2 linked regions of the Homo sapiens genome follow. The protein of the gene in region 2 purifies or fractionates together with the protein of the main gene of each other region. This does not show direct contact. Each region holds a gene or a part of one and is shown on either strand. Other genes may lie near its edges. The genes, in order: RNPEP and FAM98B.

Region 1 (3,822 bases), on a different chromosome or scaffold from region 2:
GTCACTGCGATGGTCTCTAAACACCATTCTGCTTTCTCTGCTCTCTTGTCTTTAGGAGCCGGGTGTGGGCTGAGCCCTGCCTGATTGATGCTGCCAAGGAGGAGTACAACGGGGTGATAGAAGAATTTTTGGCAACAGGAGAGAAGCTTTTTGGACCTTATGTTTGGGGAAGGTGTGGTATCACATTGACTCTAGTGTCTCCTGTTAAACTGAGTCACTGGCTTCCATTCTTCCTCTTCGTGTGGCTTTTCCACCTCCTGCCTCCCAGAGCAAAGTTTCCCTGATCCCAGAAGTGAAGGAGAGGAGGAAGAGAGGAGGGTATGAGCCAGGCTTCTCACTGTTGCTGAGGAGAGGGCCTAGGAGATGAGGTTCTTTGTGTGTGTGTGTGTGTGTGTGTGTGTGTGTGTGTGTGTGTGTTTTGAGATGGAGTCTCGCTCTGTCACCCAGGCTGGAGGGCAGTGGCGTGATCTCAGCTCACTGCAACCTCCACCTCCCAGGTTCAAGCGATTCTCCTGCCTCAGCCTCCAGAGTAGCTGGGATTACAGACGCCCTCCACCACACTCAGCTAATTTTTGTATTTTTAGTAGAGACAGGGTTTCACCATGTTGGCCAGGCTGGTCTCGAACTCCTGACCTCAGGTGATCTGTCCACCTTGGTCCCAAAGTGCTGGGATTACAGGTGTGAGCCACCAGGCCCGGCAGAGAAGAGGTTCTTGAGGTGTTCAAAATGTGACCTGCAGTTGCCAAGTTTGAGATGGGGCAGCACCGTCAAGGTCCTTTGTTGACCTGTGTTTTCCCATTGCTGGAAGTTTCCCCACACTCTGTTTTTAACTTTGACATCTTCAGACTTTAGGCTCCTTAGATAAAAGGCTCCAGGTTGGTCTTTATGACCCCAAGTTGGCCTCCAGGGAACTCCATGTGATGGAGCTGATAATACATTTATCACCTCCACCCCTGCTTGGAAGGAGAGAGGGAAACAAATGCCTGGAGAGTGAGCTCCAGGAGAGCAGACACCACCTCGATGAGGGAAGTCCCAGCAAGGCAGGGGAGCCACGTGGGAGAAGCATTGAGGAGCCTGGGCTTTATTTTCCGCACTGGGCCCGAAGTCGTACTCTGCCTGTTTAGTGACTGCATCTGTTAGGGCTTGGAAATAGGCTGGAAAGGGAGGCGAGGTAGGGTCTGCTCCGGGAAGCCAGGGCCTCTTGGTGACCTCCCCGCTTCTCGGCAGGTATGACTTGCTCTTCATGCCACCGTCCTTTCCATTTGGAGGAATGGAGAACCCTTGTCTGACCTTTGTCACCCCCTGCCTGCTAGCTGGGGACCGCTCCTTGGCAGATGTCATCATCCATGAGATCTCCCACAGTTGGTTTGGGAACCTGGTCACCAACGCCAACTGGGGTGAATTCTGGCTCAATGAAGGTTTCACCATGTACGCCCAGAGGAGGATCTCCACCATCCTCTTTGGTAAAGTGCCCACCCCTCTCCTAAGGAGTCTGCCTCCCATTCTTAACCTGTGGGGCCAGTGTGATCTCCTTATGGGGTTTCAGAATACAAGTGGGTGTGAAGAGACGAGGCAGTAGTGTGTATCCAACATTTTTCTGTATGTATGAATTGTCAAACCACACATGGTTTGACAACTGACTTTTTTTTAAAAAAACATTTCCCCAGGTCATTAGTTTTTTTTTTTTTTGAGACAGAGTTTTGCTCTTGTTGCCCAGGCTGGAGTGCAATGGCACGATCTCGGCTCACTGCAACCTCCACCTCCCGGCTTCAAGCGATTCTCCTGCCTCAGCCTCCCGAGTAGCTGGGATTACAGGCATGCGCCACCACACCTGGCTAATTTTGTATTTTTAGAAGAGACGAGGTTTCTCCATGTTGGTCAGGCTGGTCTCGAACTCATGACCTCAGGTGATCCAACCTCCTCGGCCTCTCAAAGTGCCAGGATTACAGGCGTGAGCCACCATGCCCAGCCCATTAGATTTTCTTCTATAGCTGCATATATGGATGTTTTTTAATTTACTGGTTGTTTCCAATTTTCCATTGAAATATGTTGACAAATTTCCTTACACATAAATGTCTATTCATATCAGATGATTTCAACAATGATAAATTCTTAGAAACATAATTTCTGGGTCTGAACTTTTTTTTTTTTTTTTTTTTTGAGACAGAGTCTTGTTCTGTTGCCAGGCTGGAGTGCAGCGTTGCAATCTCGGCTCATTGCAACCTCCACCTCCGTAGTTCAAGCAATTCTCCTGCCTCAGCTCCCCCACATCCCACTCCCTGTAGCTGGGATTACAGGCATGCACCACCATGCCCAGCTAGTTTTTATGTTTTTAGTAGAGACAGGATTTCGGCATATTGGCCAGACTGGTCTTGAACTCCTGGCCTCAAGTGACCTGCCTGTCTAAGCCTCCCAAAGTGCTGAGACAACAGCTGTGAGCCACTGCGCCCGGCCCTGAACGTTTTAAATTACATAGTCTTTTTAGTACATATTGTCCATTATCTTCCAGAAAGTTTGTACAAATTCTGTACTTTCATTCAGAATATATATAGCAAGAGCCTGTTTGTGAATATCTTAATCAGCCATTAGGAATCCTGCAAGCAAATATTTTTATCCCATTGTACAGTTGAAGAAACTGAGGCTGAGAGAGGCTAAGCCACTTACTCAGAGTCAAAACATCTAGGAAAGGGCAGAGCTGGCTGGTTCCAAAACCCTGTGCCCCACCCCTCCACTGTTCCCTCAGTCATTGTTTTTAATGCAGAAGGAGACTTAGAGATCCTTAAAAATTTGGGGTTGATAATTTCTTTTGTCTGACAGAAACAGTTAGATGAAAATAATTCTAAGTTTTCACAGAAGATCAAGTCATTGCCAGGCATGGTGGCTCACGCCTGAGGCAGGTGGATCACCTGAGGTCAGGAGTTTGAGACCAGCCTGACCAAAATGGTGAAACCCCCGTCTCTACTAAAAATACAAAAATTAGCCAGGCATCATGGTGTGTGCCTGTAGTCCCAGCTACTTGGTAAGCTGAGATAGGAGAATTGCTTGAATCCAGGAGGTGGAGGATGCAGTGAGCCGAGATCGTGCCACTGCACTCCAGCCTGGGCAACAGAGCGAGACTCTGTCTCAAAAAAAAAAAAAAAATCAAATCATTTTCTAAAAATAAGGCCGGGGGCTGGGCGTGGTGGTTCACGCTTGTAATCCCAGCACTTTGGGAGGCCAAGGCGGGCATATCACCTGAGATCAGGAGTTTGAGCTTGGCCAACGTGGTAAAGCCCCCTCTCTACTAAAAATACAAAAATTAGCTGGGCGTGGTGGTGCACACCTGTAATCCCGGCTACTCAGGAGGCTGATGCAGAAGAATCGCTTGAACCCAGGAGGAGACGGAGGTTGCAGTGAGCCAAGATCACGCCATTGCACTCCAGCCTGGGTGACAGAGTGAGGCTTTGTCTCAAAAAATAAAATAATAAAATAAATGAAATAAGATAAAATAAAAATACAGTACTTTGATAAGGAAAGGTAACTGTCAGAAAGGTGCGATTCCCCCAGTCCTCACTTAGGAGAGAGACCAACAGCCTGAGTTAACCAAGTCCTTTGTAGCCCACAGCAACAGGGAGCTAGGGACTGAGTCAGGCTCTCTGTAACTGTCCCTATTTGCCCTGGGTCCCCAGGAGGGTAATGTTATTAAGCTTCAGGTATCTGTCGCTGTTCTTCTTGAGGCCACAAGGAGGCAGCACAGTGTCTCTGTCAGGAAAATACACTTGGATGTGGTGACAGACGTTTTCCCGAGGCTTACGTTTGATTCTGCACCAGGCGCTGCGTACA
Region 2 (3,406 bases):
AAAAAAAAAAAAAAGGCTTTGGCTTATCAAGCCTAGTGTAAATTTCTGCATCTCACACGACTTTAGTTTGGCCAGGTATTTATCTGCCAAAACAAGGACAAATCTTGTTGTATTAACAGCAGGGTCACTTCTCATTTTCTTTGCTGACTTACCTTTTTACTGACCGTTGTGAATTTCTGTCTCAAAATGTATAATATAGAAATGCAAGAAAAAAACAAATGTACAGATTGTAAAGTTTTTTGATACCTAATGTAAGTTTTCTTTGTGTAATATTTATATGATAAAAGACATTAGGATCCCTACAACACAAATGTCTTGTGTTTCTTCTGCTTCGTGACCCCGTAAACACTTTACCTGAATTTTTCCTATATTCCACAGCTAAGACCACTGCCCTATTCTATTAATCAAATTGAGTTTTCCTGGAAGGAAAGGCAAAGCAGCTATTCAGTTTAAAATTTTCTACATCTTTTTACAACACGAAGAAGTAACACTACAGAAATATTCAATCTCTTTCCATCTTATTCATAACTTACAGTGGTCCCCAAATATTAAGTCTATAAATACTTAACATTAAAGGAGACAGACTTGAGGTTGTCCCTTCTCTGTGGCTTTTAATTCCACAGTTTCATCTAAGCAAACTAGCATGTAAAGAAGAAATCCTTTGAAGCTATGGATAAAATTGGTAACGACAGCTCAATCCAGGTTACAGACCTACTCAGGGCAATTTATTTGTGGTCATGATTATTTAGAATGATCAGACATAGCCACAATTTTCCCTTAATCCCCAGCTAATTTTTGTTTAACCACACCAATGAAGAAAGAGGAAAAATTTCAGTCACTCAAATTCCTCTGTGGAATGCATTCTGGAACATTTAGATGGGGGTGTATTTATCATTTGGGCAATTCATAATACTTCATACAAAGTAATAAAGTCACACTGACAGCCTGATCCTGAAGGCAAGATTAAACTGCCTGCTCACCTTCCCCAATTTTCATCCCCACATTTCTCTAACCTGTGCTCCTTCCAAGGTATAGATAGTATCACTGCTCAGGACATTTTTCTGGTCACAAATTTTTTTTAGGTTGTCATGCCTCCTCTTGTCACAGATACAGGTAATAAGATGTTTTTTATTTAAAATGTTTTCCTTTTTCTGTTTAATGAGGCAAGGTTTCCCTGATCTGCAAAACAAAAGTAAGTTCAAAGAAAACCCTTGTTTCCCTTTTGATGTGTGCTTATGAGTAATAGTGTGGTGATTATGTTATAGACAGAATACATGCTCTTTATACGGTCGAGAGGAAAGATGACTACTTTAGGCAGAAACTCCCAGTAAGATCATGTCTATATTTGCTATTAGGTACCAGGCTGGACAAAAAGAGAAGAAAAAAGGGGAAGGACAATGAGGTAATTAAAAAATGAAATTGAGAACCAGGCAAAAAAGAATGAAAAGGAGGTATCAAAAAAAGTGTTGGATTTTAGGAAGCAGTGGAGTGCCATTCATCATACTCCATGTCGTATTGCACTCAATTTATAAAACATTTTCACACTATGGCCTTTCCCATTAAGGCCCCAAATTTCCTTCCTGCTATTCCAGATACTGCTCAGCAAACTGTTCTACAAAAGAAATTTTTACTGAACAAAGATTATCAGGAAAATCCCACCTTACAGGAAAGAGTAAAATATTAAGAGTCTACCTGATTCAGCTTTTCATTCAATTAAGGTTTATAGGAATGTGTACATAGGAGTGGTTTCAGCTCCAACACGATTCCAGGAGCAAGTGCTAAACTTTGATAGGAAATAAGTGATTGTAGTGAATAACCCAAGCAGCACTCCTATAAAGGTACAAAGAAATCTTATGGAAAATCTAATGAAACTGATAAACTATTGTTTCTGCCATATTTACCATAAACCTTTAGTGGTAAAAAAGTTGAAAGTAGTTGTAAATCTCCTTCATCAGCAACTAATGCTACCAAAAAAGAAGTGAGGCAGAAATGTAAAGGTTTTAAAGAAGATTTTTAAACAACTCTTGAAATATTTTACTCAAGTAGTTTTTTTCTTAAAAGTTTTTAAAAATTATTTTTCAGAGTTCATAGCTACTGATAAAGGTATTTTCTTAATTATGGAAAGCCTTTTTTTCAGCTATCACAAATGAAATTACATCTTTTCATTAAATATAAACACACAAAAAATAAATTTACAAATAACCAAAAAATTTTATATTTTCCTACCTTGAACACATTTCTTCAAAGGGTTAGCTTGAAAAATACATGTCTAAGATTACAGAATATTCAATAGTTACTTTTAGGGTTTTAACATTATTTTAGATTTTACCACAGAGTTTACCAAAAAAATAACAACAAAAAAACCTGCTAAACATCAAATACCACTTGTCCACTGGGAACAATTCAGCTTTCTATCAGTTGAGTTGGTTAGATCACATTAAGTTGTTATGTATAGGTATTGACCAGAAGCCTACAATGAGATACAGATTTTACACTAAGATTGAAAAAATTTATGGTACCAGCTCTTTTTCTCTTAACTTTCTACACTAAGAGAAAAATACATTACTTGGCCTACATCTTAAAGCATTCAAAATAGGCCCTCTGTAAGTTTTTAACAAATTGTATTTGTATTTAGGTCTTTAAGAAACAACCTGAGATGATGGTAAGTGTCTCATTCCTCATTTGACAAATGAGGACAAATCACTCCTTGAGAACTAAGGTCATTTCAATCCATAGCACCCCTGACCTAGTGCCATGATTCAAATTCACAACTCTTGATAGCTAAGACTTTGACTGCTCCAACTAGCAAATCACATATAGCCATTCCCTAACTTTGTGTTTCCCAAATCTAGCTGTGAATCAGAATTACCACAGGATGCCTTAGCCCTACCCTTGATCTACTGAAGCAGAAAATTACTGCCTTAATTCTGTGTGATACAGGTCAGCCTGCCTTTTAATATTTGGATATCTAAAGTGAGAGCATAAATGATGAAGAGACCAGTTTATAGGACTATTTCTCACACCGTCATGTAAAGTTGGTATGTGTCTTTGCTCCATTAAAGTATTTCTGACCTCAATCTTAAACTTTGCTTTGTCAAACAAAATCATGCTGATTTCAAATCCAATTAGAAAATAAGTATGTACAGTAAAAAGTAAACTTGGGCTTCAATTAATGAAACTTTAACAGAAACATGGCTAGAGAGGAATCTCCTCCTATAAGAGAAAAAAATGATTCACAACAACTGCCTACTAAATACAACTGGAAGTGCCTTTCCCTATTTTGTAAAATCGAATGAAAAACCCACAAAACACATCCACAGCAATACAGGTGAGGCAAGGGTCTATATTCCTTTCTATTACAGGTGGGGTCTTTTATATGTCTCAAACCTGAACAAAATACAGGTAA

Evidence for each region.
Region 1: the proteins of FAM98B (region 2) and RNPEP fractionate together in Homo sapiens (co-fractionation; one large-scale study listed by BioGRID). This does not show direct contact.

The regions. Positions count from the first base shown.
Region 1 is NC_000001.11:201,996,092-201,999,913, forward strand, and holds part of RNPEP (aminopeptidase B), read left to right. Parts: intron 1-55; coding exon 56-172; exon of another isoform or gene 173-318; intron 319-1,227; coding exon 1,228-1,463; intron 1,464-3,810; coding exon 3,811-3,822. UniProt on the Homo sapiens protein: Exopeptidase which selectively removes arginine and/or lysine residues from the N-terminus of several peptide substrates including Arg(0)-Leu-enkephalin, Arg(0)-Met-enkephalin and Arg(-1)-Lys(0)-somatostatin-14.
Region 2 is NC_000015.10:38,485,002-38,488,407, reverse strand, and holds the end of FAM98B (protein FAM98B), read right to left. Parts: 3' UTR 698-3,406; downstream 1-697. UniProt on the Homo sapiens protein: Positively stimulates PRMT1-induced protein arginine dimethylated arginine methylation.